7 linked regions of the Homo sapiens genome follow. The protein of the gene in region 2 purifies or fractionates together with the protein of the main gene of each other region. This does not show direct contact. Each region holds a gene or a part of one and is shown on either strand. Other genes may lie near its edges.

The links.
Region 1: the proteins of PTAFR (region 2) and KIAA2013 purify together in Homo sapiens (affinity purification with mass spectrometry; one large-scale study listed by BioGRID and IntAct). This does not show direct contact.
Region 3: the proteins of PTAFR (region 2) and TM9SF1 purify together in Homo sapiens (affinity purification with mass spectrometry; one large-scale study listed by BioGRID and IntAct). This does not show direct contact.
Region 4: the proteins of PTAFR (region 2) and GOLGA5 purify together in Homo sapiens (affinity purification with mass spectrometry; one large-scale study listed by BioGRID and IntAct). This does not show direct contact.
Region 5: the proteins of PTAFR (region 2) and PGAP4 purify together in Homo sapiens (affinity purification with mass spectrometry; one large-scale study listed by BioGRID and IntAct). This does not show direct contact.
Region 6: the proteins of PTAFR (region 2) and TM9SF4 purify together in Homo sapiens (affinity purification with mass spectrometry; one large-scale study listed by BioGRID and IntAct). This does not show direct contact.
Region 7: the proteins of PTAFR (region 2) and SCAMP2 purify together in Homo sapiens (affinity purification with mass spectrometry; one large-scale study listed by BioGRID and IntAct). This does not show direct contact.

Annotation. Positions count from the first base shown.
Region 1 is NC_000001.11:11,920,866-11,924,115, reverse strand, and holds part of KIAA2013 (uncharacterized protein KIAA2013 precursor), read left to right. Parts: intron 1-626; coding exon 627-1,480; intron 1,481-3,250.
Region 2 is NC_000001.11:28,173,466-28,178,772, forward strand, and holds the start of PTAFR (platelet-activating factor receptor), read right to left. Parts: upstream 3,226-5,307; 5' UTR 3,127-3,225; intron 1-3,126. UniProt on the Homo sapiens protein: Receptor for platelet activating factor, a chemotactic phospholipid mediator that possesses potent inflammatory, smooth-muscle contractile and hypotensive activity.
Region 3 is NC_000014.9:24,191,994-24,197,130, forward strand, and holds the start of TM9SF1 (transmembrane 9 superfamily member 1 isoform a precursor), read right to left. Parts: upstream 3,449-5,137; 5' UTR 3,353-3,448; intron 3,044-3,352; 5' UTR 3,027-3,043; coding exon 2,682-3,026; intron 1,277-2,681; coding exon 655-1,276; intron 364-654; coding exon 178-363; intron 1-177.
Region 4 is NC_000014.9:92,807,805-92,811,304, reverse strand, and holds part of GOLGA5 (golgin subfamily A member 5), read right to left. Parts: intron 2,006-3,500; coding exon 1,786-2,005; intron 1,052-1,785; coding exon 928-1,051; intron 1-927. UniProt on the Homo sapiens protein: Involved in maintaining Golgi structure. Stimulates the formation of Golgi stacks and ribbons. Involved in intra-Golgi retrograde transport.
Region 5 is NC_000009.12:101,477,174-101,481,755, forward strand, and holds part of PGAP4 (GPI-N-acetylgalactosamine transferase PGAP4), read right to left. Parts: intron 4,334-4,582; exon of another isoform or gene 4,190-4,333; intron 3,553-4,189; exon of another isoform or gene 3,498-3,552; intron 2,751-3,497; exon of another isoform or gene 2,667-2,750; intron 1-2,666. UniProt on the Homo sapiens protein: Golgi-resident glycosylphosphatidylinositol (GPI)-N-acetylgalactosamine transferase that catalyzes the N-acetyl-beta-D-galactosamine transfer from an UDP-N-acetyl-alpha-D-galactosamine to the 4-OH-position of the first mannose of the glycosylphosphatidylinositol (GPI) of a GPI-anchored protein (GPI-AP).
Region 6 is NC_000020.11:32,143,712-32,148,293, reverse strand, and holds part of TM9SF4 (transmembrane 9 superfamily member 4 isoform 1 precursor), read right to left. Parts: intron 3,204-4,582; coding exon 3,085-3,203; intron 2,983-3,084; coding exon 2,871-2,982; intron 1,510-2,870; coding exon 1,439-1,509; intron 1-1,438. UniProt on the Homo sapiens protein: Associates with proteins harboring glycine-rich transmembrane domains and ensures their efficient localization to the cell surface.
Region 7 is NC_000015.10:74,866,449-74,871,030, reverse strand, and holds part of SCAMP2 (secretory carrier-associated membrane protein 2), read left to right. Parts: intron 1-4,582. UniProt on the Homo sapiens protein: Functions in post-Golgi recycling pathways. Acts as a recycling carrier to the cell surface.

The sequences.
Region 1 (3,250 bases), about 16 Mb from region 2:
AATCCATCAGTAGCAAAGGGGCCCAGCACGTGTTTATTCAGCAAGTGTCTATTGAATGCTTCTGCCAGGGCTGTTTTAGGCATGGGTGGTGGCCTGCACCTGTAGTCCCAGCTACTCAAAGGCTGAGACGGGAGAATCACTTGAACCCGGGAGGCGGAGGCTGTAGTAACCTGAGATCGTTCCACTGCACTCAAGCCTGGGCAACACAGTGAGACTCTGTCTCAATAAACAAATAAATACATACATACATAAAGCTACAAGACTGGAGAGAGAAAGGACAGAGAGGAGAAGTGGCCTGAGACTGGCCTCAGCACTGGTGACTGATCTGGCGCAGGATGTCTGACCATAGGGTTGGTGCCAAGTCCTGGCTAAGTCTGTGTTCCTCTGGGCTCTGGCACCAGGCCCCGCTGCTTTTTAACAGGATTCTAGATTTCAGGCCCACAGGCTCAAGTTGGTCGTGTAAACAAGACAGGCTGACTTTCTTCTATACTTTAGGGAGATGGGCACCACTGTCTTTATCATTAAGGCACAACACCTCACTCTTCTGCTGCCCTTGGTCTTTATTTCGTATGCTCTGCCTCCCAGCTGTCCTTCCCCCTTAACATGCCGCTTTCATGGTGTTGCAGGAGTGGAAATGAAGAAGATCACTGACACCCACACGCCGTCTGGCCTCACCGTGAACCTGACGCTCTATTACATGCTCTCCTGCTCGCCAGCCCCACTGCTCAGCCCCTCCCTGAGCCACAGGGAGCGAGACCAGATGGAGTCGACGCTCAACTATGAAGATCACTGCTTCAGCGGGCACGCCACCATGCACGCCGAGAACCTGTGGCCGGGGCGGCTGTCCTCCGTCCAGCAGATCCTGCAGCTCTCTGACCTGTGGAGGCTGACCCTCCAGAAGCGTGGCTGCAAGGGGCTGGTGAAGGTGGGTGCCCCAGGCATCCTGCAGGGGATGGTGCTCAGCTTTGGGGGGCTGCAGTTCACAGAGAACCACCTCCAGTTCCAGGCCGACCCCGACGTGCTGCACAACAGCTATGCATTGCATGGCATCCGCTACAAGAACGACCATATCAACCTGGCCGTGCTGGCGGATGCCGAGGGCAAGCCCTACCTACACGTGTCCGTGGAGTCCCGTGGCCAGCCTGTCAAGATCTATGCCTGCAAGGCAGGCTGCCTGGACGAGCCAGTGGAGCTGACCTCGGCGCCCACGGGCCACACCTTCTCGGTCATGGTGACACAGCCCATCACGCCACTGCTCTACATCTCCACCGACCTCACACACCTGCAGGACCTGCGGCACACGCTGCACCTCAAGGCCATCCTGGCCCATGATGAGCACATGGCCCAGCAGGACCCCGGGCTGCCCTTCCTCTTCTGGTTCAGCGTGGCCTCCCTAATCACCCTCTTCCACCTCTTCCTCTTCAAGCTCATCTACAACGAGTACTGTGGGCCTGGAGCCAAGCCCCTCTTCAGGAGTAAGGTAGGAAGCCGCCATCTGGTCGAAACCCGAGGCCTTGGCCTTGCTCTCAGCCCTGTGTCTCGGAAGGGGCTAGCCTGGCGAGGGGGGGTGAGGCCTGGGCAGGAATGGGTGTCCTGATGCCCTCAGCCCTTGACACCAGAGAGCGCGCACAAGTGTTTTGAGAGGAGACGACGAGGAAGGGAAAGCTGGAAATCCAGGTGTGAATTGATGGTCTTCTGGCTTTCCAGGGCAGCCCTCCCCTCCTCCCGCATCATAAATCTCAGCATTTAAAAATAACTGCAAGCTGGGTGTGGTGGCTTGTGCCTGTAGTCCCAGCTACTTGGGAGGCTGAGATGGGAGAATCCCTTGAGCCCAGGAGTTTGAGGCTGCAGTGAACTATGATTGTGTCATTGCACTCTAGCTGGGGCAACAGAGCAAGACCCTGTCTCAAAAAAGCAAAAAACAAAAAAGCAAATAAAAGTAAAAAAAAAAAAAAAAAAAAAATTAGAGGCAGGGCCTGGTGGCTCATGCCTATAATCTCAACACTTTGGGAGGCCGAGGTGGGAGGATCCTTCGAGCCCAGTAGTTTGAGACCAGCCTGGGCAGGATAACGAGGACTTGTCTCTACAAAAAATTTAAAAATCAGCCAGGCGTGATGGTGCACGCTTGTAGTCCCAGCTACTTAGGAGGCTGAGGTGGGAGGATCACTTGAGCCCAGGAGTTTGAGACTGCAGTGAGCTGTGATTACACCATTGCACTCCATCCCAGGTGACAGAGTGAGACCCTGTCTAAAAATAATAATAATGAGGCTGGGTGCAGTGGCTCATGCCTATAATCCCAGTACTTTGGGAGGCTGAGGCGGGCAGATCACCTGAGGTCAGGAGTTCAAGACCAGCCTGGCCAACACGGTGAAACCCCATCTGTACTAAAAATACAAAAATTAGCTGGGCATGGTGGTGCATGCCTGTAATTCCAGCTACTCGGGAGGCTGAGGCAGGAGAATTGCTTGAACCCGGGAGACGGAGGTTGCAGTGACCCGAGATCATGCCAGTGCACTCCAGCCTGGGTGACAGAGTGAGACTCTGTCTCAAAAAAATAAAAAATAAATAATAAATAATAATAATAATAAAATAAAAATAACTGCAACAAGCCCCTAGATTGACTTGAAGCCTCTGTCTGAACTGCTGGCGGGATCCCCAGCTTCCCCCCATGTGCCTGTTCATGGCATGCAGAGGTCAGCCCCTTGCTCCAGGCCTCGGACCAGAGTGGCCATCTCGTTAGCATAGGACACAGGACAGAAGCATTGCCCTCAAGTTTCCTGAGACATGTTTGCCCCTGGAAGCGGTGATTTTGGCCATCATTGCTGCAAGACTGTCATCGGGGCAGCATCTTAGCATCAGCATTGCTGTCGCGGGGTGAGGCTGCCTACTGTGCCCTGCCGCCCGGCCTTCTGTGCTTCCTCAGGAGAAAGACCAGCAGGGATTCCAGGGGGAGGCCTTTGTTAGCAGTTGTAGAAGAAAATGTTTCCCAAAGAGCTGAGCTGTTTCCCTTTCTCTTCTCTCCTCCTGTATCCCGTCTCCTCCCCTCTACTCTTCCTCCCCTCCCCTCCCTTCTCTTCTTTTCTCCTTTATCTTCTCTTTTTAAACTGTAGTGACAGTAGAGAGGTATATTAGGCTCTGCGTCTGTGCCCCCAAGTAGTCAGAGAGCCCAGATCCCACCCTGGAGAAATGGGAAGTGTCCCATCACATCCACAGGGATGCCTGCGGCTTCTAGTTTCTGGCCCAAGACCAG
Region 2 (5,307 bases):
AAAACAAAAACAAAAACAAAAACAAAAACACAAAAATTAATCAGGCAAGATGGTGTGCACCTACAGTATCAGCTACTCGAGAGACTGAGGTGGGAGGACTGCTTGAGCCCAGGAGATCGAGGCTGCAGTGAGGTGTGATCACGCCACTGCATTCCAGCCTGCGTGACAGAGCAAGACTCTGTCTCAAAAGAAAAAAAAAAAGAGGAGGGGGGGCGGGGTATGCACAAATTTGGTTTTGACATGCTTCTCCCATTAGCCAGCCAAGCTCAACTCCAAACCCAGGCCCTGAAGATCTCCCACCTACAGAACCAAGGGGGTGGGGAGGGGTGGCTGAGTGGTGATCCTCCCCCTGCATATTCTGTCTCTCTCTCACACACAAACACACAAACAAATACACACACAGAATCTGGCTGTGATTCCCCTCGGCCAAAGACACACAGAGGCATATCAGCCTCTCAGCTGGCTTTGCTGGCCATCTGCTCCTGGGAGGGGAGCTGTCTGGCTGGAGCAGGCCACATGCAGCCCGGATATGCTCCCGGCCCATCATTCCAGATACATGTAGACATAGCCAGAGCCAGCTCCCTGTCCACCCCACATAACCACAGACACACATGCACACACAAAGACACACCAGAGGCTTCTCCCCGCTCTCATCATGCTGTCAAGGAGCCCAAGAGGGGGTGGTCAGAGAGGGGGCTGCAGCAGGGTCCCAGCACTTGCCCTTTGGGAGCTGGCTCTGCTCCCGACCCAGACACACACCCCTAGGCCCATCAAGGGGTGCTGCCGGCTCCTGCTCCACTGTTGCCCTCTCTGAGGTCCAAGCCTCCACCCATCTAGGGGATCAGAACAGGAAAGTGGGGGATGCCACCAAGAAAGAGAATGCCATCCTCTTCAACAAGGCCTCCTTCACAGGCCTGGGGTGGGAAGTGGGGAATCTCTGCTCCCTGTAAAAGGACAATAAGATCCCAGCCTCTCCTCATACCTGCTTCCCACCACCAGTCAGAGAAAACTCAGTCCTGTAGGCACATTTTGTCACTGATAGCATAAACTGTGAATTCCTTACTCCTTCAATGACCAGATGGGGAAACTGAGGCCCGGAGATGAGAAAGGATTTTCCCAAGGTGAACACAGTGTCAGGGGCAGAGCTGGGACCAGATACTGGGCCTCTGGCTCACCGTCCGTTCCCTTCCAACTGCAAAAACCGCTTCATCATTCATCTGTCCTGTGCATATTCTAAGCATATGCTATGTTGCAAACCCTGTGCTAAGGATAAAGGATACAACAGTGAACAAAACAGTTTCCTCATCCCTAAGGCGTTTAACAGCAGGAATCCCAGAGTCAGCATTAGAGGGAATTCATCAGTCCCCTTTGCGCAGCATTTTCCAATTGACAAAGCACTTCCCCATCCCAACTCTTACTTCATCCTCCCTGCAAACTCACAGATCAGTGGTTTGTTTGTTTTGTTTTGTTTTGTTTTTTGAGACGGAGTCTCGCTCTGTTGCCCAGGCTGGAGTGCGATGGCGCCATCTCAGCTCACTGCAACCTCCGCCTCCCAGGTTCAAGCAATTCTCCTGCCTCAGCCTCCCGAGTAGCACCCGCCACCACGCCCAGCTAATTTTTGTATTTTTAGTAGAGATGGGGTTTCACCATGTTCGCCAGGATGGTCTCCATCTCTTGACCTCGTGATCTACCCGCCTCGGCCTCCTAAAGTGCTGGGATTACAGACGTGAGCCACCATGCCCGGCCCACAGAGGTCAGTATTTTAACCTGCAATCTGCAAAGGAGGAAAGTGGAACTTCCGAACAACTCAAGGCCCCGGCTTGTCAGCAGGAGCTGAGATCGAAACCCCGGATGCCCACCTGAGGCCCAGGACCCAGTCATCTAAGGGGCTGAACTCTTTCTCCGGCGGTTTGTCAGCACCTAAAGATAGTGGTGTCTCTTTTGCTTCTCTAGCACTCCCCAACACACCTCCCACCCCTACCGCCTCCCCCAACACACACACCACCCCAAACACCTGGAACACAGCTGGGTATTCAGTCAGAGCTAAAGGAGAGCAGCCAGAGGTGTGGGGAGAGAGCCTGCTGGTTCTGTCATATTTCACAAGTGAGTGAGTGCACAGCCCCATGTCTGGACCTCCTGCAAGCAGAGGACGGTGGGTGCCAGCCTGGGCCCTGTCCCCAGCACCTGGGACCTGATAGGGGCTATTGTTTGTGGGCTTGGCCCTGTGTATAAGAACCTGGTTATTTTCAGCACCCCCTTCCCCACCCCGCAAACCTAGCATTTAGTGAGTTCCTAAGTACCCCGCCCTGTACCAGATCCTTTATATGACCCGACAATTCTGTGGGGGAGATGGGATTATCATTATTTGACAATTTAGAAAACTGCACAGAGATGGAGCGTAACTTGGCCAAGACCACACAGCTAGTCAAGTAGATGTCATTTGGCTCCCTGAGATCCAAGCTGCCCCCATCACCACCATCACCACCTCCCAGTAGGGTCTCTGGGGTCAGCACTGCCACCATCACCACCATCAACACCTCCCAGTGGGATCTCTGGGGTCAGCACTGCCCCAGCCTCAGAAAAGCCAAACTTGGGTGTTGGGTTCTCCAGGAATGTTTGGACACTAGAAGTTATTTCTAAACATGAGACTCTGGGCCTGAGAAAGGTGCCAGAAAAATCCCTTAAAAACAGAAGCAGCCGAGCACAGTGACTCAAGCCTGCAATCCCAGCACTTTGGGAGGCCGAGGCAGGCTGATTGCTTGAGCCCAGGAGTTAGAGACCAGTCTGGGCAACAAGGCAAGACCTCGTCTCCACAAAAAATACAAAAATTAGCCAGGCGTGGTAGAGCATGCCTCTAGTCCCAGATACTCGGGAGGCTGAAGTGGGAGGATCACCTGAGCCTGGCAGGTCCAGGCTGCAGCGAGCCATGATCGCGCCACTGCACTTCTGCCTGGACAACAGAGTGAGAGACCCTGTCTCAAAAAAAAAAAAAAAAAAAAAGAAAAGAAAAGAAATAGAAGCACCCATCTGCTTAGGTGCAGCCTGGGGGCATGACCTTGGTTTGCCTCCTGAGGACATTTTTATATGCCTCCCCCTTGCCCAGCAGGGGCCAGGATTCCCCCTTACCTGTAGCAGGGGCAGCGGCTTCAGCTGCAGTGACCGTGTGTCTCTGTCTGGGTCCTGGCCCCAGCCTCAGCCTCTATGCTGTCTGGCAATTGCAGAAGTGAAGAAACAGAGCGTATCACTACCAAGTCACCCCTGGGAGGAAATGCTGTGGCCCTAGGGCCTCTCAAGGGGTACCACAGGAACTTCCAAGCTGGGCCGCCAGGACCTGGGCACTGCACAGAGGCTTCTCAAAGAGCGAGGGATGGGGTGGGGTGTAGACAGCGCCCGAGGCCAGGAGCTAAGGTGAGAAAGAGGAAAAGCAAGAGAGAGAAAGCAAGTGCATGTACTCAAGAGAGCGAAAAAGGGAGCATGAGAGTGAGAAAGAGGAGGGAGGAGAGATGAGGGACCAGGAAAATCAAAGGAGAAAGGGAGGAGGCAGGAGGGAGTCGGGAAAAAAAATGAGAGGGCGGAGGAATGGATGGAGGGAGCGAGGCTCAGGGAAAAAGACAGATGTAAACACCGGGAGAGATGAGAGGAACAAGGAGATTCAGGGACAAAGACAAGGTAAGATCCAAGACAAAAGACGAGATGACAAGACACAGACAGCGAGCATGTGCCTGTGCACATTTGGGTCTGTGCGTCTCTGGATGGGGGTGAGAGAGAAAATAAAAGAAGGGGAGTGGAGGAAAGAGAATGCCCGCTGGGATATAAAGTGGAGGGAGAAGAGAGGAGCTCGGAAGAGCCACTGTGGTCAGGGGCATGACAGGGCAGGGCCTCCCTGGAGACCAAGAAACATTGAGCCCAGAAACCCCATGGGAACAGATCTGTGGGGGTGGAGGTGGAAGCTCCCTGAGACCGTGTTTTGTAGAGATAGGGTCTCCCTGTTTTGCCTAGGTTGGTCTCAAACTCCTGGGCTCAAGGGATCCTTCCGCCTCAGCTTCCCAAAGTGTTGGGATTACAGGCATGAGCCACTGAGCCTGGCCCTGTGTTTGTTTTTTTGTTCATGCGGTTGATTTCTGGAGAGAACTGGCTCCATTGTCCAGTAGAATGTTCTATATTCTGGACTTGGTTGATTGCTTCCTTGTGAGGTCCTTTAATCTATTCCTCTGTCTCCTGTATTTTCTGAAAACAGGTTTGATTAGATTCAAATTTGGACATACTTTCTTCTTTTTTTTTTTCACCCAGGCTGGTGTGGGTTGGCAGCGTATGAGTTCATGGGAGCATGCAGGTGAAGAGGGGTGGACAATCGATGGTGAATGCACATGAATCTCTGAGTGTAGGTGTGAGGGTATGTGTGAAAGTGAGCTGGTGGGGGCATCCCGTGTGCATAAGTGAGAGGTGAGCCAGAGTATCTGCCTCAGTTTCCAGTCCATTTACCCACTCATTCCTTCAACCAACCAACAAGCACCATCTGAGCACCCCCAGGCACCAGGCACTGGGGTGGACCCTGTCTAAAGAAGCAAGTCCCTCAGATACATCAGCCGACCCAACAACCTCCTACACAGAGAGGGAAACTGAGGTCCCGACAGGACCAGGGTCCCACAGCAAGGCAGGTATAAGGAGAGTCGGGGGCCTGCATCAGCATCCAGTCTCAGCTCCGCTCTGGGTATCTGGGCCAGGCTCCTCCTCCTAATGTCCCTTATCAAAGCCAAAAATGGCTCTCAAAGGACAAAACACTTTTTTTATTTTTTTATTTTTTATTTTTTTTGAGACAGAGTCTCACTCTGTCTCCCAGGCTGGAGTGCAGTGATGCAATCTCAGCTCACTGCAACCTCTGCCTCCCACTTTCAAGGGATTCTCCTGCCTCAGCCTCTGGAGTAGCTGAGATTACAGGCAAGCACTGCCACGCCCGGCTAATTTTTGTCTTTTTAGTAGAGACGGGGTTTCACCATGTTAGCCAGGCTGGTTTTGAACTCCTGACCTCCAATGATCTGCCCACCTCAGCCTCCCAAAGTGCCAGGATTACAGGCATGACCCACCGCGCCTGGCCAGAACAAACCACTTTTAACATTTGCCTCAGTCATGTAGAACTAGAGCCAAGCATCTGCCCCCTCCTCCACCTCCAGCCCCCCATCACACACAGGCAGACACACTCAGACCACATAACACTTGCACACTCGCATACACTCAGCGCCTACTCTCATGCGAAGATGCCCACTCACACTGTGTTCCTCCACTCACCTGCACACTCACGCCCAGTCT
Region 3 (5,137 bases), on a different chromosome or scaffold from region 2:
TAGAGAGAGGGTCTCACTATGTTGTCTAGGCTTGTCTCAAACTTTTGGGCTCAAGTGATCCTCCGGCCTCGGTCTCCCAAAGTGCTAGGATTACAGGTGTGAGCCACTGTGACCAGCCACAATGTGTTCTTCATTCCTAAGTCCAGAAAGGCCCACCAGGGAAAGGAAAGTCCTCACCAGAGAAGAGACTGGTGGTGAGAATGATGTTCCACACCCAACGCTCGCCTCCAATCTGCCGGTAGAAGTGGCTGGACACGTAGCCAGAGATGCAGCAGGTCAGGGCATACAACAAGATGGCTGCTGAGTTAATGGCCCCATGACGGTGCACATTGAACATGCCCAGCAGTGCCATGACAATAATGCCTGCAGGACGGTAGCGGAAAGCCCAAGTTAGGCCTCACCTGTGTCTCTTCTAGCAATTTCAGAGGAATCAGCCCCCCTTCTCCCAGACCCAGGGCCTCCAGCAAAACAATCTCCCCCAGTTTTGCTATCCAGAAAATCTACAATAGAATACGTGCATTCTTGCTAGAGCCACCCTATCCCTTAGGTCTGCCCCTCTGGATAGAAGAGAAGATCCACAGACCTTTTCTGAACAAACTCCCTACCTAGTTCTATCCCATGAGATAAATCCCCAATTCATTTTTATCACCTCACCAGTGCCAAGGGCCAGGAACTGGGCACCCACGCCAAGCACAGCACAGAGCAGACCACGGTATGGGGGGAAGCGGAAGACATCTGTATGGATAATTTTCCAGCCATTGTCACCCTGGTCAAAGTCATCACCAGAACCTGCAGAGGTGGTCTCCTCATCTAAGTTGTACCGAGCCAGGTCATTCCGAAGCACACGCATTAGAATGACAGCCACAAAACCCACCAGTAAAAACACAAGCACCATGGAGTTGATGATGGACAACCAATGGATTTCCAGTGTTCGAGGAAAGAAACCACCATCGTCACCACGGCGCCTGTCACTCCGACGCTCCACTGAAGTCTCAGACCAGCGCACGCTATAAGTGTGGGTAAGGCCTAGGAACTCGTCAGGTCGTAACCCATCCAAGCTGTGGGGCTTGACGTCCCGCACTGAAACATTGGCAAATATAATTCGGTCTCCATGGAATTCTAGGTGGAAGTCCAAATGGGTCCAGAGTCCTATCTTGTGGCTGTGTGGCAGGAAACCACTCTCCTCCATGTAGCCCACAAAGCCCCGGATTGGCAAGTCATCTACCACAAATTCAAAGTAGTACAGTTCTTCAATGGCCTGGCGCAGCTGCTCCACCTATAAAGAGCAAGTCAGGAGTTGGTCACACAAGATCTCCCCAGGCGCAGAGTTACAGCAAAGTTTCTCACCTTCAGCACTACTGATATTTTGGGGTGGATAATTCTTTTTTTTCGAGATGGAGTCTTGCTCTGTCACCCAGGCTGGAGTGCAGTGGTGCGATCTCGGCTTACTGCAACTTCTGCCTCCTGGGTTCAAGCAATTCTCCTGCCTCAGCCTCCCGAGTAGCTGGGATTACAGGCGCCCACCACCACACCCAGCTAATTTTTGTATTTTTAGTAGAGACAGGGTTTCACCATGTTGGCCAGGCTAGTCTCAAATTCCTGACCTCATGATCTGCCTGCCTCGGCCTCCCAAAGTGCTGGGATTGGTCGGGTGCGGAGGCTCATGCCTGTAATCCCAACACTTTGGGAGGCCGAGGCGGGCAGATCACGAGGTCAGGAGATCGAGACCATCCTGGCTAACACGGTGAAACCCCGTCTCTACTAAAAATACAAAAAATTAGCTGGGCGTGGTGGCGGGCGCCTGTAGTCCCAGCTACTCGGGAGGCTGAGGCAGGAGAATGGCGTGAACCCGGGAGGTGGAGCTTGCAGTGAGCCGAGATTGCGCCACGGCACTCCAGCCTGGGCGACAGAGCAAGACTCTGTCTCAAAAAAAAAAAAAAAGTGCTGGGATTACAGGAGTGAGCCACCACACCCAGCCTGGGTTGGATAATTCTTTGTCATAGTGGGGTTATCCCGTGCACTGTAGGATGTAGCTTTCCTGGCCTCTTCCCATTCTATGCTGGTAGTACCCCCCCAGCTGTAACAACAAAAAATGTCTCCAGACATTGCTAAATGTCCCTTGGGGGACAAAACTGTTCCCTGTTGACAATCACTGGGTTAGACTCTAGTATGTTGAGATTCTCCAAAAAAGAGCAAGTATGGCTTGACAGGGTTAAGGCCTAGAAAAAGGAGAGCGGTGAGGTATAAGGAGGTCTGGAGTGGACTAAGGAGAAGTACCAGGATTCACTAAAGAAAAAGCATGACAGGGAAGTTTAGGTAGAGACTACAGGAAACAGCTAAGAAACAGCCAAGAGGTAGGCATGGAAGGAAACAGAACTATGTGGGACTGATAGTTGGGACCTCATGACCAACAGAGAAGCTTGCAGTAAGAAACCCTGGGCTCTGATATCAGTTCTGCAAATCACTGTCCATGTAATCTTGAAAAAAGTAACTTCTGAGCAAGTATGTATCTTAGTCAACTGAATTAGAATAGCATCACCTAACCTGCCTGCCACACTGGGTTGTATTGTAGTTAGAATCAAATCAGACAATTTCCATAAAGGTACCCTGAACCATAAATGTAAGGCACTGTTAGTCTCTGGGAAGGAGGGCTACGTGATAGCCAATGTGGAGAGGCTGACCTGTGCAGAACTGAGCTGCATGTGGCACAGAATTCTCTTCTCCACGTTTTCCCGAAAGCGGATCTCATACAAAGACTCAGCCATTCGGTCCCCATCCAGCACTTCACCCAGGCTAAGGCTTTTGTGACGTATCTTCTCAGGGCAGCAGACTGGAAGCTGATAGTAGTGGTAAGTTTCCTGAGGGTTATGGTAGGGTCCCACTTTGTTGACATACAGAATAACAGGGTCGCCGGCCTTGTAGTGTGTCACGCCTTCCACCCCTGGCCCATGGCCTGTGCCCAGCAACAGTATCAGGATTGGCAACCACTGGCAGCTCCAACTTCGAGGGTTCCCTACGACTGTCATCCTTAAGGCAGTGGAACCTGTTTGGGGGAATCCTGAGGTTATAGAAACCAGGGAGGTTACAGAAACCCCAGGTCAGGTGCCTCGAACTGAGGTCCCCTGGCTCCACTTGCTCCCATTGGCCCCCTCCCCGCCTCACCCTACCCCACGTCTCTCTATCCCAAAGACCCCGCTCCACCTCTGCTCTCTCATCCTCCCAACCTGGGGTTCACCCCACCCGCAGCCCGTCTGGCCCGGGGCCTCTACTACGCGCCCTGGCCCGTTTCCATGGCAACGCCGCTCGGTCTCGCACCTCGGGTCCCTTCCCGCCACAGCCCCGGGGTCCTCACCGCGCGGGAAGGGCTGGCCGAGGCGGCGCCAGCGGCCTTCGCGCCCCCGTAGCTGCCTTTGGGCTCCTGCTGGGGTCTCTCCCACAGCGGCGCGGTAGCGGCGGGTTGGAGAGGACCTGCCGACCGACTTCTACGGGGTTGCCCGTTGCTGCGCCTGACAGCGGCGGCTGCGGCTACACCGCGCTGGACACCGCTCTGGCTTACTCAAGAACTCCCCGTTGCGCCTTCTCCATCTGGAGGCCCGGCCCAGCTCCGGGGACCCCGTGAGGCTCGGCTTGCCCCGCCCGTCTTCGGCGAGGCGGGGGTCCTCCCGGCGATCGGCAGCGCGGCCCAGGACACGTCAGTCTTACCACTTCCGCCCTCACCGGCGGCGACCTCAGCCTGGCGGAAAGCTCCTTGCCTGGAACGCAGAGGGCCTTCGCTGCTGCGGCCCCTGGGGACTCCTTCGCGACGGCTTCCCGGGGAGGGGGCTGAGGCCTGGCAGCGAGGACCCTGACACCCCTTCGGGAGAGGAGTGGCTGCTAGGCCGCTCGCTTGCTCCTGGAAAGATTTGGGGTTTGAGAGCTCTTGGCCAGGAGGCTCGCGCTGGCCGAGGCCCGAGAGCTGTCCCCGCGGGACGGGACTAGCGAGGGCCGGGGAGATGGAGCGCAGGCGGCGTCTGGGTTCGAAGCACTTTCCGGCTGAACCACCTGCTGCTGAGGCTGAGCCCTGAGAGGCGGTTCGTGGCCCCCAAACCGGGGAAGGGGCGAAGCTTTGGGCATCTGTCCCATGCAAGGGTCCCAACATCTGAATCTCACCTCACTCGTCTCCCACCTGTCACGAATGGCCAGCGCCAAAGTGATAAATATGTAATAGGAATGTCTTCCCGAGGCTGTGCTGGAGACTTCCCTGGCCGCACAGTGACCGTTCAGAGCCCACGATAAGCAAGCCGAAACCCGGTTTGGCGCAGAGGCGCGCAAGGAGAGAGGTCTGTCCTTTGACTCTGTGAGTTGGGCAGCCTAACATGGTTATTGTTAATTGACGGTAAAGTATCTCGAGGTCCGTTAGTCTATGTTTTTGTTCTTATTTATCACTGTGTATGTCTTTGGGCTTCTCTTCACTTTGTATGGCAGATTATTTTGAAAAAGTTTACCCTTGTGTTTGTCTCAGCTGTTTTAAAGGGGATCTGCCGTCTAGGGAGTTCCCCTTGAAAATCGGACCTTTGAGCAGTGACTTCTGTTTTGCCACCTGGGAGCAACGTGTAAGGAAGTGGACTTAAGCTTCTCTCTCCCCAGGGGAAGAAGCACAGTGGAAAAATCACAAGTGACTTCTGGCCTGAAAAGCCCTTAATTTACCTGCTTCTACAATTACTGCCCTTTCTGACCCAGTTCTTTCCCTGCAGATATAGGTGAGGTTCAAAGAAGCAGATGGTGGAGTTTTGTTAGACAATCAGTGAATTTTCTAATTAGAAAAAGAACTGAGGTCGGGCGCGGTGGGCTCACGCCTGTAATACCAGCACTTTGGGAGGCCAAGGCGGGCAGATCACCCGAGGTCGGGAGTTCGAGACCAGCCTAACATGGCGAAACCCTGTCTCTACTAAAAATACAAAAAAATTAGCTGGGCCTGGTGGCGGGCGCCTGTAACCCCAGCCACTTGTGAGGCTGAGGCAGGAGAATAGCTTGAACCTGGGAAGCGGAGGTTGCAGTGAACCGAGATCAGGCCATTGCACTCCAGCCTGGGCAACAGAGCGGGACTCCATCTCAAAAAAAAAAAAAAAAAGAAAAAGAAAAAGAAAAAAGAACAAGA
Region 4 (3,500 bases), on a different chromosome or scaffold from region 2:
AAGCTTACTAAACTGGAATTTTCAAGATGGGTCTGGGAATCTGTTTTTTAAGAAATTTCCCAGGTGAACCTGGTCACTTGGATACTAGGTCTGGTCTGATACTAGCTGATCAACTGTTTCCAATTTAATAAGTAAATAAATAGGTGTAAATTACACCATATTTTAAAGAACCAGTATTCAAAAAATAATGTAAAATATCTCATTAATAACTTTTAATATTGACTACATATTGAAATAATTAATACTTTGGATATATTGTGTTAAAATTAAGAGACACACACTACCTGATATTTACTTTCAGGACTGAATTACTTTCACCTGTTGAAAAGCTAGCCCAGACCAGTGGTTTGCAACCCTGACTGCTCATTAGATACACCTGTGAACCTTCTAAAACCAAAGTGTCAATACCTAGTCCCTACCTCATACAATGGAATGTGACTGCATATGGAGCTCAGACAGCACAAGGTATCACACAAGTGATTCCCACGTGTAGACAGGGCTGGGACTGAACTAAATGCAAATATTCATCTAAGAGTAAAACTCTTTACATATTACATACAATTTTCTCCTGAAATAAATGAGCCAGATTAATCTGGAATCAGAAAAACTTAAATTAATAAAAAACAAATACGATCCCCCAACCATTAGCATTTAATCAAATAATGACAATGATTGTTGCAAAAATTAAGTAAAAGATGTATATCTCTAATGCACATTAACTATTTTAATTGTCTCTCAACACATAAAATTAAATACATTTAGCAAGGATCAAGCTAAATTTTCAAATATCTGATTTTTGTCACAGAAACAGAATTTTCTGAAATGCATTGCAGAATTATATTAGACAGTTAATGTGCTATGAAACAGCATAAAGTCATTTTTTCCGTGTCCAAGTAACAATAGGAATCTGCTGTCTCTCATTCTAACCTGCATCTGTTTATAGCTCTCCTGCTCTCTCTTCAGAGTGGCATCCGCTTCATGCAGTCTCTCCTGAAAAGTCTGCAGAGCTTGATTCTGCAGGCTGTTACCTTCACTTTGATCCTGCATTATTCTAAAGGAAAATGCATCATGTGAAATAACTCATGTCTACAGTGTACAAGTGATAAGGCAGAATAATTTTTAGAGCGTCAGCTTTAGTCAAGCACAAAAAAGATAATTTGACTGAAATATTCTTAGATAAATCTTTCCTTTCTAATGGAACATAATCTACATTTTTAGGCATCCAAATATTAAGTACATACCGTATAATGAAAGATTAATGACACAACAAATGCTTTTAAATTCAGAATTTGCTAACAATGCATCTCAAGGTTCAAACAATGAATCCATTTTATGTTGTTGTTGTTGAGATGGAGTTTCGCTCTTTTTGCCCAGGCTGGAGTGCAATGGCACAATCTCAGCTCACTGCAACCTCCACCTCCTGGGTTCAAGTGATTCTGCTGCCTCGCCTCCTGAGTAGCTGGGATTACAGGCATGTGCCACCACCCCCGGCTAATTTTTTTTCTGTATTTTTAGTAGAGACGGGGTTTCTCCATGTTGGTCAGGCTGGTCTCGAACTCCCAACCTCAGGTGATCCACCTGCCTCGGCTTCCCAAAGTGCTAGGATTACAGGCTTGAGCCACCACGCCCAGCCAATGAATCCATTTTAATCATACACATTTCTAACACTACCAAAAGAAATATTCCCTCTTGTAAATTTCCAAGAAAGCTAAGTTTCATAAGTGGATACACTACAATGTTTACCATTACTTGCTCATTTTTTTCATTATTCATAGAATCACCTACCGTGATTTTTCACTCTGTAAGGCTTCTAATGCTTCTGTGCGAGTACTCAGTAGCTGGTCAGCTTCCTGGAGTCTCACTTTCAGTACAGCCAGCTGGGAATCCTTTGCAGCCACAGCTTCAGTCAGGTCATCTACTTGGGCTCGGAGTCCTCGAGTCATTCGATCACTCTTTGAATGGTCAGCATTCCACTTTTCAACTCTTGCTCTTGCTTTGTTTAATTCTATTAAAAAATTTAAATTTCTCTATACAAGCAAAACCAAACACATTTTTCTCAGAGCACGTACAGTTTCTACTTTGAGTGCCTTTAGTACTTTCCTTATTGACAAAATTGGGAACTTACACGTCTTCAATTTTCTTTGCCCCAAAGGGTCATCCACTTTTCAAGGGCAATATTCACAGCTAGATTATAGTTAATTGATTAGAAAGGGGCGTGAAGCTAGCTGCTCTTCTACAATGCTGTTTCTATATGATAAAGCATCTGGGAGCCGAAACTAGTATTAATAGATAGCAGAGTATATTTTGTAAAGTTCTGCTAGTGACAGGGAAAGGAATGCAAATCCAAATCAAAGGTACATCCTAGTAAGAACAAAACAAAACCTAAACACAGAAAAGAATCTATTGCTTTCAATTACTGTTGCAAAAAGATGTTATTCTTTTGACCTAGGAAATCAATGCAAAAAGAGCAAAGTAGTGCTCTATTTCAGAATACAATGGCATTTCCATACCCTCACATACCATATGTAATTGCAGTTAGCCACCACAACATTTTAAAAATACTGAATCAAACTTTATAGGGTCTCAAAGCTTTTTTTTTTTTTCCAGTGAGACACACCTTTCTTAAAGAAAAAAAAAAAAACCCAAAAACATGAGACAGAGCCTCACTCTGTTGCCCCGGCTGGAGTGCAGTGGCATGATCATGGCCCATGACTCACTGCAACCTCCAACTCCTGGGCTCAAGCAATCCTCCCACCTCAGTCTCCAAAGTAGCTCAGCCTACAGGTGTACACCACCATATTCAGCTAATTTAAAACAAAAAAAAATTGATTTTTGTAGCCCAGGGGTCTCACTCTGTTGCCCATGCTGTTATTGAACTCCTGGCTTCAGCAATTTTCCCATCTCAGCCTTCCAAAGCGCTGGGATTACAGGCGTGACTCACTGTGCCTGGCCAAACAGCTCTATTTCTATGTCTAAATTAGTGTGGGTAAAGTAAAGCTTTTTCTAAAGTCAGCCTGACTAGTGAGTACTTTGTTTTTGTTGTTGTTGTTGTTGTTGTTGAGACGAGTCTCGCTCTGTAGCTCAGGCTGGAATGCAGTGGCACGATCTCGGCTCACTGCAACCTCCACCTCCTGGGTCCTGGGTCTGGGTTCAGGCAATTCTCCTCCCTCAGCCTCCTGAGTAGCTGGAATAACAGGCACGCGCCACCATGCCCAGCTAATTTTTTTGTATTTTTAGTAGAGACGGGTTTCACCATGTTGGCCAGACTGGTCTTGAACTCCTGACCTTGTGATCCGCCCGCCTCGGCCTCCCAAAGTGTTGGGATTACAGGCGTGAGCCACCACGCCTAGCTTAGTGAGTCTTCAACTATCTTCCCTTTCCTCTCTTCTAGGCTCTATCCATGGCTTGGCAAAACTTTTCCCACCATCCCCTCACTCCTTTCTAATTAGCCCCAGGAACCAAGGCAGCAATTTTGTCACTCGTTTTCTTCTCAGCCACAC
Region 5 (4,582 bases), on a different chromosome or scaffold from region 2:
AGAGAGAGGAAGTAGGGAATGGTAAGAGTAACTTAAAAAAACAAACAAACAAACAAACAAAAAAACAAAAGGACAAGAACTGAGCTCAGCACATATCAAACCAGAAATTATAATAGGAGGCTCTGTAGCTTCTACAGACTCTAAAGTATTTTCTACAGTAAACCATTCTTTGGTTGTGTCTGCTAACAACCTCTGGATGTTTTTATTATTTCTATGAGTAATACGATCTCGGTGCATTCAACCAAATCATCACGCCTAAAGATACTTAGTTAGGTTTACAATGCCAGAAAATCTCCAGGTAGGCTGTTGGGATCATTATTTCTATTCACCAGCTACACAGACAATGGGTTCTTAAAACGGGGGCAAAAAAGCAAGGCTTGGCACAAAGGAAATATACACATTTAGAGCAAGTTCCAGAATAAGGGCCCAGAAAATACTTGTTGATTAACTGTGCATATAGCAATTTCCAAAAAAAACTTGTCCAACAAGAGAAGGAATACTTAGGATTCTCTGAAGTATCTTTGTTATTTAATGTCATTTTCCATTCATATGCTTCTAATCTCACACAACTATACTTAACATTGCATATTAATTTAATCCTGATTGTTCTCCCATTTTATTTTTATAGATCATGGGAACCAATGAGAGGAAGTATTTCCCATAAGCAAGCAAACTCTAGAGCCCCAGGCTTGGGGAGGGAGGAAACATCTGGAGGAAGATCCATGAGTAGCTTTTCAATGAGGGAGCGGGGGGGGAAAGGCAGAGGTGAATATGGAAGAGACAGTTGCCCTCAGTTTGGTCCAGGAAAAAATGCTGTGTGATATGATGATTCAGAGCATGGGCCTGAGGCCAGGCTCATATTGGTGTGAATCCTAGCTCTGCCTCTCATTTGGTGGGAAGTTTACCTCTCCATATCTTATATTTCTTAGCTCTAAAATGGAAATAATAATATCTGTCTCATAGGGTTACTGTGAATATTAAATGTGTTAGAAAGCAAAATAATGCAGAGTAAAAATGCCATTAAAATCTATCCATGTGTTCAAACTCACAAAAATATTTTAGAAGTAAGCAGGTCTAATATTCTGATGGAAAACAGACTAGTGCCAAAAAACAGAATGAAAAGGGCAAAGCCAGTATAAAATAATAATTGCTAGTAAGGTCAATGCAAAACTAAATGGTGTCTGCAGTACAGAAAGTAAATCTGTTGCCTCAGACGCATCATAAGGTTTACACACATTTGGAGGAAAACTGTATAGTTTGTGAGTTATTGCAAAGGGAGGATTGCCCAGGAACCATACGAGGCTGCTGTGGAGCAGACTCAGCCAGTGCTCTCATATCCATGGTCTCCCCTTGGGCACACAGAAAGACCTCATTTCCTAGTTTGCCTTCTCCAGGTGGAGTCATGTGACTAGGGCTTGTCAGCAAAGTGACAGGTGTCACACCTGGGACAAGGTAGTTGAGAACAGATGTGCCATCTCGACTTTCTCTTTCCCCATCTGCCAGCTGAATGGAGAGCCCTGGTGGATCTAGAGGAGGTACAGCCACCAGATGGCAGAAGCCTGGGTCCTTGAATCCTTTACATACATATCCCAGTGTTGGGACGGCATGGAACAGATGTCCCTTCCGCTGCCCACCTCCCAGTACCCTCCCAAACTAGAGTGGACTGTGTTGTGAGCAATACATAAACCACTGTGTCTAGACACCAATAATTTTTGGACTTTATTACAGCAGTTAGCCTACTCTGCCCTCTACAGTTGTGTAGAATACCAAATGTACAGTGACATGGTTAATTTCTCAAGTAGAGAAACAAGTTTCATTTCAGCCACAGAAGCAGATTGTACTATGGGACTCCAAAGGTGAGACAGACTATCCTAGTACTAAGAGATCTGGATAGTACCCAAAGAGGGAACAAAGCAAGGAGAGGTTTGAATTATGCAACCCCAGTCTTGCTGGTTTGTGAACATCCAGCATATTGCAGACTGGTTGCTTCTTCCTCTGCTCTGCTCAGCGCAATGGAGTTAACAAACCATGTGGTTGAACGTGATTGAACGTGGCCTCACCACTTCCACATCACTGCTGATGGAAGCCAATACTAGAATTGGGCTGAACTCCCACTCCTGCAGTATTGGCCTTGGAAAAGGAGGCATTCGAGTGGATTTCTGCTCATACTATTATCCCTGCCTTTGTTATTACCACAAGGGAGCTGGATCAATCTAGAGGAGGGAACTAGAGACAATGAGATAGGGCAGGCAGTTTGGAAAATGCCAGGCACATAGTAAAGGCTATCACTTACTATGATATGTCAGGGGGGAAAGAAATGGAAACACCTAGAACTGACATCAGGAGAACCTTTGGTCCCAGGGAATTTATCCTACTGGGGACAATAAAATCATTAACATCTCACATAGTCCTTTACTTTAAAACTACGTCTGTGAGACTGCTGTTCTACTGACAATCAGGAAAAGAGAGGGATTTGGTTCAGAGGACACATGGTCCCTACCTATATTGATCAGCTTTGCTGGGGTGATTAACAGCCTCAAATCTTTATAACTTAAAGTGATAACATGTATTTCTTGCATACGGGTTTGTGGATAGCTGTGGCTCAGTTGGGGTCAGCTCCAGAATGTAGGTCAGAATTAGCTCATGCCACATGCCCCTCCTTCTAGATCAAGCTGCAGAGGAAACAGCCACCTGGGGCGTGTTCTTACGTTGCCTGGAAGCTGCACAAGAGGCCAAGTCAAAACATGCAGGTACATTTACATCCTTGTTTCAGTGTGCCACAAATCAAGTCCACTCATCATTCATTGGCCAAAACAATGGGACAGGAAGATTTACTCCTCCCACAGAGCAGAAGGAGGGGAAAATGAAGATTCAATAGAAAAAAAAAAGGCAACAGGCCAATTTCTAAATCCTCAGGAGAAAAGAAAGCATCTAGCAATCTGCTCACGGAGTATGGAAATTTTTTTTAGAATGCTTACAGGGCTTAAGACCCGGCCCCCAACCCCAATCATTACACACTACACGAATAAGGACAGGCTTCAGTAATGATCCCCAAAATCTCAGTGGCTTATAAGAACTAAGGTTTAATTCTTGTTCATAGTACTTGTCCTTTACAGGTCAATTGTGCCTCTGTTGCCTGTTGTTTGTACTCTAGGACCCAGGCAGATAGAACTGTTTTTTGTTGTTGTTGTTGTTTGTTTGTTTGTTTGTTTTTAACATTGCTGGTTTTGTGGTAGAGAGAAAAAAGGGGAATAGTGCACCACAAGCTGGCTCTCAAAGCCACTGCTCAAAAGTGACACAGATCACTTCCACCCACATTTCACTGACTGGAACAAATCACATAATAACTCAAATTCAACAGAGCAGAAGGGAGTGCCAAAAGATACATGGCCACACCTGAGACCAATGACTGGAGAAATATTTGTATTCCAGGGAGGGGCAGAAAATGTACTCCAGGGAGGGGCATTTTGAACATTAATGCAATCTACCACACCCACCTAGGACACAGGAGCTGGGATCAGATCCTTCATTCAAGATTAGATGACTGCTTTGCTGAAAATCCAACCACATGGAGTTATGTAGTCATTCAGGAGTATGTTCTTGTTTACTTTTTAAAACATTTTTTTAAAAGATTTAACCAATTGTTGCACAGTAGCCTGTGGTGTCCAATGGCACCTATAATTTATTTCACCTTACTGATCTGGTTTTAAGAAGAATGGCCAGCTGGATGTGGTGCCTGAAGCCTGTAATCCCAGCACTTTAGGAGGCTGAGGCAGGTGGATGGCTTGAGCCCAGGAGATTGAGACCAGCCTGGGCAACATGGCAAAACCTAGTCTCAACAAAAGATACAAAAATTAGCCAGGCATGGTAGCATGTTCCTGTAGTCCTAGCTACTCAGTAGGCTGAGGCAGGAGGATTGCCTGAGCCCCAGCAGGTCGAGGCCGCAGTGAGCTGTGATCGCACCACCGCACTCCAGCCTGGTTGACAGAGAAAAACCCTGTCTCAAACAAAAACAAACAAACACACAAACAAAAAAAGATAAAAGATAAATGGCCTTAGGGGAACAGATATAAAAACATAGGATTTTTCACTGCTAGTTTGGGGAAGGAGTTTTTTTACTCCCAGCCCAATCATAAGGGTGAGACAAGAGGGCTATGTCTATGTTACCACTCTGATTGTCTTTTTCCAGAATTCCAGTTGCCCATGATGTCACAGGCTGAGGCCCACACTCCAGAGACACTGTGGACTGACTGGCACCTATGAGCTGACCTAATAACAGTTACACCATTACAGCTCCGATTCTACAGAACAATACATATCCAGTTCTTATCTATGCTTTGCATGTGCTCTTTGAAACACAACCCTTCCCTAAACAGAATTCTCTACCTGTTACCATATCTAGAGTGTAGGGCTCAGGGAAGACAGTAAAGGACACAGACTCTGAGAAATGAACATGAACTAGGGCTTAGATGAATAAATGGAGCTACAACAATAGTTATATTTTAGTGCAACTTCTGAAAATTAAACTAAAGGATCCACGGGTGTGGAAGACACAATACCAGGGTGTGAGTCAGGGGATGAG
Region 6 (4,582 bases), on a different chromosome or scaffold from region 2:
GCTAATATGATGGTCCAAAACGGTCTTCTCAAGATTGTTTGAACCTGCATTTTGTGGGGTTCTTCCTGAGGTAAAAACAGTTTTCTCTTGCTTACTGGGCATATTGCAGTGTCTTGCCTGTAAATTTCCTGTTCATCATTACATTCGAAATTTTAGATTTTTTGGTTTTATTTATTTATTTATGAGACGGAGTCTTGCTCTGTTGCCCAGGCTGTAGTACAGTGGTGTGATCTCGGCTCACTGCAACCTCTACCTCCCAGGTTCAAGTGATCTCCGGCCTCAGCATCCCGAGTAGCTGGAACTACAGGCACCTGCCACCAGGCTCAGCTAATTTTTGTATTTTAGTAGAGACAGGTTTTCACCATGTTGGTCAGGCTGGTCTTGAACTCCTAACCTCAAGTTATCTACTGTCCTCTAGTTTTTTTTTTTTTTTTTCCTTTGGAGACAGAGTCTTACTTTGTTGCCCAGGCTGGAGTGCAGTGGCACGTTCTTGGCTCACTACAACCTCCGCCTTCTGGGTTCAAGTGATTCTCCTGCCTCAGCCTCCTGAGTAGCTGGGATTGCAGGTGCATGCCACCACACCCAGCTAATTTTTGTATTTTTATTAGAGACGAAGTTTTCACATGTTGGTCAGGCTGGTCTTGAACTCCTGATCTCAAGTGATCCACCTGCCTTGGCCTCCCAAAGTGCTGAGATAACAGGTGTGAGCCACCGTGCCCAGCCCCGACCTAGTTTTTTTTAAAACAAAGAGATTTTGCATGAATTCTTTAAACTGTGCCATTTTTTTCAAGTTTGTTGCAGATATTGTTTGCCATTGTGGCCTTCTGTTTTGTTTATGTATTTGGCATGCAGAATAGTTTTACAATTTTTAATGTCAAATCAATCAACTATTTTTTGTGATTTCTTCCACGGTTTTTATGCTTTAAAATTAGAAAGGCCATCCCTATCACTTTGGGTGAATAAAACTTTTTTCCTTACTTTTTTGGTATTACATTTTTAGTATTAAAAGTATACTAGGCCAGGCGTGGTGGCTCATGCCTGTAATCCCAGTACTTTCGGAGGCCGAGGCAGATGATCATGAGGTCAGGAGACTGAGACCATCCTGGCTAACATGGCAAACCCCGTTTCTACTAAAAAATACAAAAAGTTAGCAAGGTGTGGTGGTGCGTGCCTGTAGTCTCAGCTATTCGGGAGGTTGAGGTGGGGAATTGCTTGAACCCGGGAGGTGGAGATTGCAATGAGCCGAGATCACACCACTGCACTCCAGCCTGGTGACAGAGCGAGACTCCGTCTCAAAAAAAAAAAAAAAAAGTATACTAAACTGTTTTAGTATTTTGAGGTTTCCTCTTTGAATGATAATATACACAAACATATGCACACACACGGTCCTCCTCCCCTCCCCATCCAACTTCATCCCTCCCCAGCCAAGACCTCGTACAATGTCATCCTCCTTGTTGTAGTTGGCAATGTCCTTCCGGAGGGTCCGAATGATAATCATGCTCAGGATACCTGAAATAGATGGCGGTGAGGATGAGGAGAAGTTGGCGCTGCCAGCAAGCCCATGCTCCATGCCCTCCTAGACATGATGTTTTACTGTGCGACAGCTGGCATGCACGGCTTGCTCCATTATGAACTGGCTATGCAGCCACCTCAAGGCCTCTTCTCGGGGGAGCTCCACTCCAGCTACCAGGGGAGGAGAGCACAGAGCATGGAGGTGGGGAGGAAAGGGTTGCTGGGATGGGTAGGGGTATCCTGGGGAGAGGAGCATCCCAGCTGTTCCATCGCTTGGTCCTACTGACTTCTCAGCTCATGTGTCCAAGGGCTGCCTGTGGCTCCACCTCTGGCTATCTGCTGCTTCAGTTGGCTCCTGGCCTCACTATGTTCTCATCAGCACGCCTTTCTTCAAGCTATCCTTTTTGCCCAGAATGCCCCGCCATATCCTGACTGACTCCTACGCGTGCTTCGAGGCTCACTCTGGGCATCTTCACGTCCCAGCACCCTGAACAGTACAGAGCCACTCCCACCCCCATTTGTACTTTCCTGTTTCCCTCTCTAGGCAGCACTGTAGTGGTTAAGAGAATGGGCCATATGACCTTGAGTTCACTTAACATTTTCGGGCCTAGTTCACAGGGCTTCAGGGATTGAAATGTTTGTAAAGTGCTTAGTTCAGCAGCTGGCCCTTTGGTAAATGTTTAATAAACAGTATTTAGCATTATCTGTGCTTCTCATATGATAGTGAAACCATCAGTGTCATTCTACCCCTGCCTACCACCCTCTCACCACCCGGTTTCTTGCTGAGCTTATCTCGCTGCAGGACCATGATCCTCACTGGCACAGACTTTTCCCAGGTCTCTGGATGGTGGCTCCTTATCGTAAAGAAAGGTCTTCCCCAAAGAGCCTTCACACTTTCCTCAGCTATTGTGTATTTGGCCACCCTGTTGATCTGCTTCATAGAATGTATCACTATCTGGAACTCCACTACTTATTTGCTTTTTTGTTTCTCTCCCACCACTAGAATATAGGCTCTATGGGAGCAGAGACTGGGTCGGGCTTGTTCATACCATATTCCCAGCATCTGGCAAAGTGCCTGGCACAGAATGAGCAACAACAACATCTTGTTGAATGAATCAAGAATGTGTGCAGGCTCAGGTGTGTCTGTCCTCCATGAATGAGCTCTCCAGAGTTCTAGAGCTCTCTAGAGATGAGTCTTGTTTACCTATGTACACCTGATGCTTAGCAGAGCCCTGATGTCTGTTTTTGACCTACGCCTGACCCTCAGAACACCCTGGAAGTCCCCCATACATGATGTGATGTCTCAGTCCCTCAACCCCAACCCCCATCCCCTTTCCCTCAACCCACAGATCTCTCACCTGACAGGAAGAAGACCACAACAACGGAGTTAATGATAGAAAACCAGTGGATCTGGACGTCACTCATGGTCAGGTAAGTGTCCCAGCGAGAGGCCCATTTGATATCACTTTCCTGGCAGGTGGGAGGAAGCACTTAGAGTCAGGCATCCTGCTGGAGAACCTGACACAGACCAGAGCCCTCCTCCCCTGCCCATGAGCTCCAGCCCCTTCTCACCTCCCAGTGGACAGAGTAGGTGAAGTACAGCTGATTCTCCTTGGTGGGGTCAATTTCTTGGGGCGAGGAGTTGGTACCCTCAGGCAGAGTGCACGAACTCTTCTCATCTGCTTTGAGGTCTGAGAGAGACACAGACTCAGTCTGTTCCTGTGGTGGCCAGTGCCACTGCCCAGGGGCTATTCCAGGGGCTGCCCTCAAGGCTGCCTGTCGCGGAGACCCAGCCTCTAGGGTGGGAGTGGAGACTGGGAGCACAATGGGCAACAATGGTTTTTTTTCATTTTTTATTTTTAAACCTTATTTTTTTAGAGATAGAGTTTTGCCCTGTCACGCAGACAATGGCACAATCATAGCTCACTGCAGCCTCAACCTCCTAGGCTCAAGTCATCCTTCTGCTTCAGCTTCCGGAGTAGCTGGGACTACAGGTGTGTGTCACCACACCTGGCTAATTTTAAGACATTTTTTTGTAGGGACAAGGTCCTTTTATGTTTCCCAGGCTGGTCTTGAACTCCTGGCCTGATGCAATCCTTCTGTGTTGGCCTCCCAAAGCGCTGGGATCACAGGTGTGAGCCACCATGCCTGGCCAACAATGGTTTTTGAAAATTATTCCTCAGAGCCCTGACTTTCTGAAGGTCCTTAGGGGCTGCAGAGAGGCCTGTGCATGGGGGAAGGGAGGGGCCTGAGTCGGAGTTCCTCCCTGAGTCAGTGTTCCTTCACTCAATTCAAACGTTCACCTACCATCCAGCCAGTCCCATTCAACATAAAACCTTGATCCATTCCATCATGCCTACTCATTCATTTAGTCTATCTCTAAAGCCCTGGCACTTTCGTGATCAATCATTCAGATGTTTTCTCCATTCATTTGCTCATCTGTTCATCCTGTTATCCATCTACTCATTCAACCAACAACATATAATAAGCACCAACTATGGGCCAGGTACTGTGCTAGGTGCTTAAGATAAAATGGTGAGCTGGGCGCGGTGGCTCACGCCTGTAATCCAAGCACTTTGGGAGGCCAAGGCAGGCAGATCACGAGGTCCGGAGTTTGAGACCAGCCTGGCCAACATGGTGAAACCCCGTCTCTACTAAAAATACAAAAATTAGCCAGGTGCGGTAGTGGGCGCCTATAATCCTAGCTACTTAGGAGGCTGAGGCAGGAGAATTGCTTGAACCCAGGAGACGCAGGTTGCAGTGAGCGGAGATCGCGCCACTGCACTCCAGCCTGGGTGACAGAGCAAGACTCTGTCTTGGGGGGAAAAAAAAAGATAAAATGGTAAGAAAAGGAGACAGGGAGACTCTAAGCTTGAAGAGCCAGTGGGGGAGCAGGTGGCCTCAAAAGCGTCACACATGCAAACGTAGAACTGCGCTCGGGAAGCTCCCAGGGGAGATGTGCTATGGAGCTCTTGAAGGGCAGGATCTATGTTTGGGACTTCTGTGTCTAATTTTGTTTGAACACTAAGTTCCACAGTGGAAAAAAAAAAAAAGTCCAAATACCACCAAC
Region 7 (4,582 bases), on a different chromosome or scaffold from region 2:
TGTTTGTGCTGACTGGTGAATTATGAGCCCTGATATTCTGCTCTGTCAGGATGTCACCAGGCACATTAACTCACCCTGCTTGTCCTTTATTTTGGTCATTGGCAGCTTTTAAGTTTCCTGCAGGTGTCAGAGAAGTCCTTGAAGGAGTCCTTCCTGTCATTCACAGCATGAGTTTTCCCACTTTGAATCGCTTCAAGGGTCAGAGCAAAATCAAAGGAGACTTGAACTAAATAATTATACGCTGTCAGGAGAGTGAAAATGTTTTGCTTCTTTCTTGGTCTCAAGGTGTCTTAGCCAACAGGAGCCCTCAGGGCAAATTCTGATAGCTTGTTCCTTAGAACATCAGGGAATTCTGAACATTCCTCTCGTAGCTTAATGTTTCTTGACAGAGCGTTTGCAAGGACCTTGTCTCTTATGTAAGGCAAACAGTCATCTCTATTGAGTAAAGAAAGAAGATTTGCATTTTTTTTTTCTGCCAATGTCTTCTGGTAACAGACTTTAATTACAAAACTGCTGTATAATACTGGGGTTTGGGTTTTAGTAGGATCTTGTAGCCTTATGGTGTATGTTGTATGTGATGATTTTCCATTTTTTATGTGTGTTTTTTTGTCCTCTCAGAATCAGAAATAAAAAGTCTGCTGCTGTCTGACAGAGAGGAAGTCAGTTGTCTAAAAATGCAGAGAGCTTTGCTCCAGTGTTAGCAGAGGGCAAGATAGTTCTACCCTGTATTAATAGCTGCTTGAAAGTCTTAAACCTCATCTCTGGCTCCAAAAATGACTGTGCAAACTGTGGTAGAAGTAACTTCTGCATTCTAGCGAGACAGTCTGTCCATCAGGAAGCCCCAGGATATGGCATGACAGGAAGCAGCTGTGGTCCTGTCAACCAGCCACATCTGGTGGGGAGTCCTGGGTGGGAAGAAGAAAGCTGGCTGGCTGGCTGCGATTTGCTCCTCCTCATCCTGGGCTGGGCTTTTCCTCTTGGCACACAGTGGTGTGGGGAGAAACAGCTTTGGATGTGAGGCCTCTGAACCTTCTCCTGGTCAGAGCTGCCCACCTTTTCCTTGAGATGGTGATGTCTGCTTCCTTGACTGCCAGGGCTAGGACGTTGGGAGGTGTAGCCCTTGGGTGCCTGGGTGTGAGCCCAGCTTCATTTACTCAGGGTGTTGGCACCAAGCTCAGGAGAGAGCAGGTGGAGAGGCGATAGACTCAGAAACTGTCACACCTAGTCACACTCCAGAACAGTCGTTTTTATTTCCGTCATGCAGTGACAGAAATGGTGGATTGCAAAAATATACCTAGTGTTCAGAGCTCATAGTTGACTGTTAAGAGCTGAGAACATTCTTAGAACTCTATTCTAACCTCTTCAGTTTAGAGATGAGGAAACCAAGACCTCAATGAGGATGGTATGTGCCAGAGTCATCAGTTGTTTAGCAGCAGGAAGGTGCTGACCTGGGTCTCATTCCCAGGACAGGGCTGTTTTAAAGGTTTTGAAGCTCAGACATTGGTGTTAAACTGCACTGGGGCTATTTTAGGCTGGCTAAGGAAAGAATGGAATGTAACATCATCACAGTTGTCACCATTCTTGAGAGTACTGGGAGTGGTGAAAGTAACAAATTAGTATTAGCTAAGCTACATTTTTTCTCCAGTGTGAGGGGATGGAATAATACAGATCTTGTGCTTTTGTTCTTTAATTTTTTTATTTTTTATTATTGGTTTTTTTTTTCCACTGGAGAACAATTCTTGGGCTTTTTAAGACAGTTCTTTAAAGCAATATATATTCTGAGTAATGCCAGTCCTGAAAGGTGCTCATGGTTCTGTGGTCAAATAGGTTTGGGAATTGCTACCTATTTCGTTTTTGTTTCTTTGTTTATGTTTTTTGAGATGGTGTTTCGCTCTTTTGCCCAGGCTAGAGTGCAATGGTGCGATCTTGGCTCACTGCAGTCTCCACCTCCTGGGTTCAAGCGATTCTCCTGCCTCAGCCTCCTGAGTAGGTAGGATTACAGGCACCCACCACCACGCTCAGAATTTCTGTATTTTTACTAGAGACAGGGTTTTACCATGTTGGCCAGGCTGGTCACGAACTCCAGACCTCAGGTGATCCACCCGCCTCAGCCTCCCAAAGTGCTAGGATTACAGGCGTGAGCCACTGTGCCCAGCCTGTTTGTTTTTTCAAAGATTCACAAGGCTTGGCCAGGCATGGTGGCTCACACCTATAATCTCAGCAATTTGGGAGGCCAAGGCAGGTGGATCACTTGAGGTCATGAGTTTGAGAATGGCCTAGGCAACATGGCAAAACCCCATCTCTACAACAAATACAAAAAATTAGCTGGGTGTGGTGGCATGCACCTGTGGGCTCAGCTACTCGGGAGGCTGCCACAGGGGGATCACTTGAGCCTGGGAGGTGGAGGTTGCAGTGAGCTGAGGAGTGCCTTTGCACTCCAGCCTGGGTAATAGAGTGAAACTCTATCTCAAAAAACAAACAAACCAAAATAAAGATTCACAAGGCCTGTTAGTTTGTTAAAGGCTCTGAGAAATCCTACAAAAAGACATTGGCTCAGCTTTATTTGACCCAGCATTTCTCAAGGTTATTCGACCATGGAATCTGTTTTCTGCTCAGTCGTTATATCCTTTGAAACTCCCAGTGCACCATTTAGTTGACTTCCTCATCCAAGGTTCTTTATTAAGTGCCTGCTTCCACCCCGCACTGTGGGCATGTGCTTTTATGACCTCTTCCTTGCGTGTGGTTATGATCGGGATGATTAGAAAACTTCCTGCACAGAAAGAGCTGTGAATGGGAAGTTAAGATATGAGTGTGCCACAGAGGTTTGCCCACCTCCTAGGAGGAAGCAGGAAACTGCAAGCCAAGTGTTGTTGATTTCACAGCCTCCACTGGCACACCCTAATTCCTCTGTTGGTTATGGCAGCTGCTTTGTACCCTCTGAGTATTTCGGTCTCTGCTTTGGAATGATCCAGGGTGTCTGCTCCCAAAAGTTTCTCATTAAGTCTTGTCAGGTGATGAAGGGGTGGAAAGCTAAAGGGAGTCATTGTACTGTCCATTTTTCAGCAGTCCACTAAAAATCAGACCACCCAGGCAAGTGCCTAGGGCTGCTTTCCCACTCAGCACTTCTGCCAGATTATCCCAGGCAGACAGCATTGATCTCAAGGAGAGGAAGTGGAATAGGTGGTGGCATTGAACAGAGAAAACCTTTCAGTGTTTGTAAGTTGCCAAGTCACACAATATCACTTTCACACATTGCCTCCTTGCAGTTAAAAGATAATCTCAGTGTTGTGGCTGCTTCCCAAGGATTTGAAATATTTCTCTCCTGTGGAAGGAAGAAGTGGTGGCAGAAACGTGATTTGGGTGTGAACAAAGTTACTTGAATTTCCCTGTGCAGACAGTGGGACCTTCCCAGAGAGGGTTGGCCCCAGCTTGACCATAACTTTGGGAATTCTTGGAATAACCAGATGGACCTGGTAGAACTTTCCTGTGTAACAGAGCATTGTCTCAAGAAATTTGAAAATGGCAGGGTTCTTACAGCTTCACTGTGACTACAGACAGCTGCCCAGATAGGATTCCTGCCTTTATGGTTGGCACCTGGAGCCAGGCTGGGTGTTAAAACTTGGGTAGAGAGATAGGTGAACTTTGACTCTTCCGTTAAGTCTTCTTTGGAAACACTTGGGGTAAGATAATCTTAATTTCAGAGAAATGGTAATATTTAACCAGGACAAACAAGGGGTACTTGCTGTTCATTCAGAGAAGAGTGCTGTGCACATTTGCAAACTGTGACCCATCCAGCAAGTGCTGCTTTGAGATGTTCACGTTAGTGCACATCACTGAGGTCATGCTGCTCTGCAGGCCTGTGCAGGAGACCATGGTAAATGAGCACAGTATGTGATCAATGGCTTCTGGCAGGAGAGCTAAGAAATACTCACTGAGGCTGGGGCGCAGTGGCTCACGCCTGTAATCCCAGCACTTTGGGAGGCCAAGGCGGGCGGATCACAAGGTCAGGAGTTCGAGACCAGCCTGGCCAATATGGTGAAACCCCATCTCTACTAAAAATGCAAAAATTAGCCAGGCGTGATGGCGGGCACCTGTAGTTCCAGCTACTCGGGAGGCTGAGGCAGGAGAATCGCTTGAACCCGGGAGGCGGAGGTTGCAGCGAGCCGAGATTGCACCACTGCCCCCCAGCCTGCATGACAGAGCGAGACTCCATCTCAAAAAAAAAAAAAAAAGAAAGAAAATAAATGCTCACTGAGAGTGACAGCACATCACAAGTGGGATCAGGGCAGTGTCCAAAGGAGCTGGGAGGGCTCTCAGGAGGAAGGGCAGAGACCTGTGGCACAGAGGGCTTGGACTGAAAGCAGAAAGCCTGGCAGATGGGAAAACAGGGTTATTCATTTATTTTTTGAGACAGAGTCACACTCCCGAGTAGCTGGGATTACAGGCGTGCACTAGCATGCCTGGCTAATTTTTGTATTTTTCGTAGAGGTGGGGTTTCAACCACGTTGGTCAGGCTGGTCTCAAACTCCTGATCTCAGGTGATCCACCCACCTCGGTCTCCCGGAATGCTAGGATTACAGGT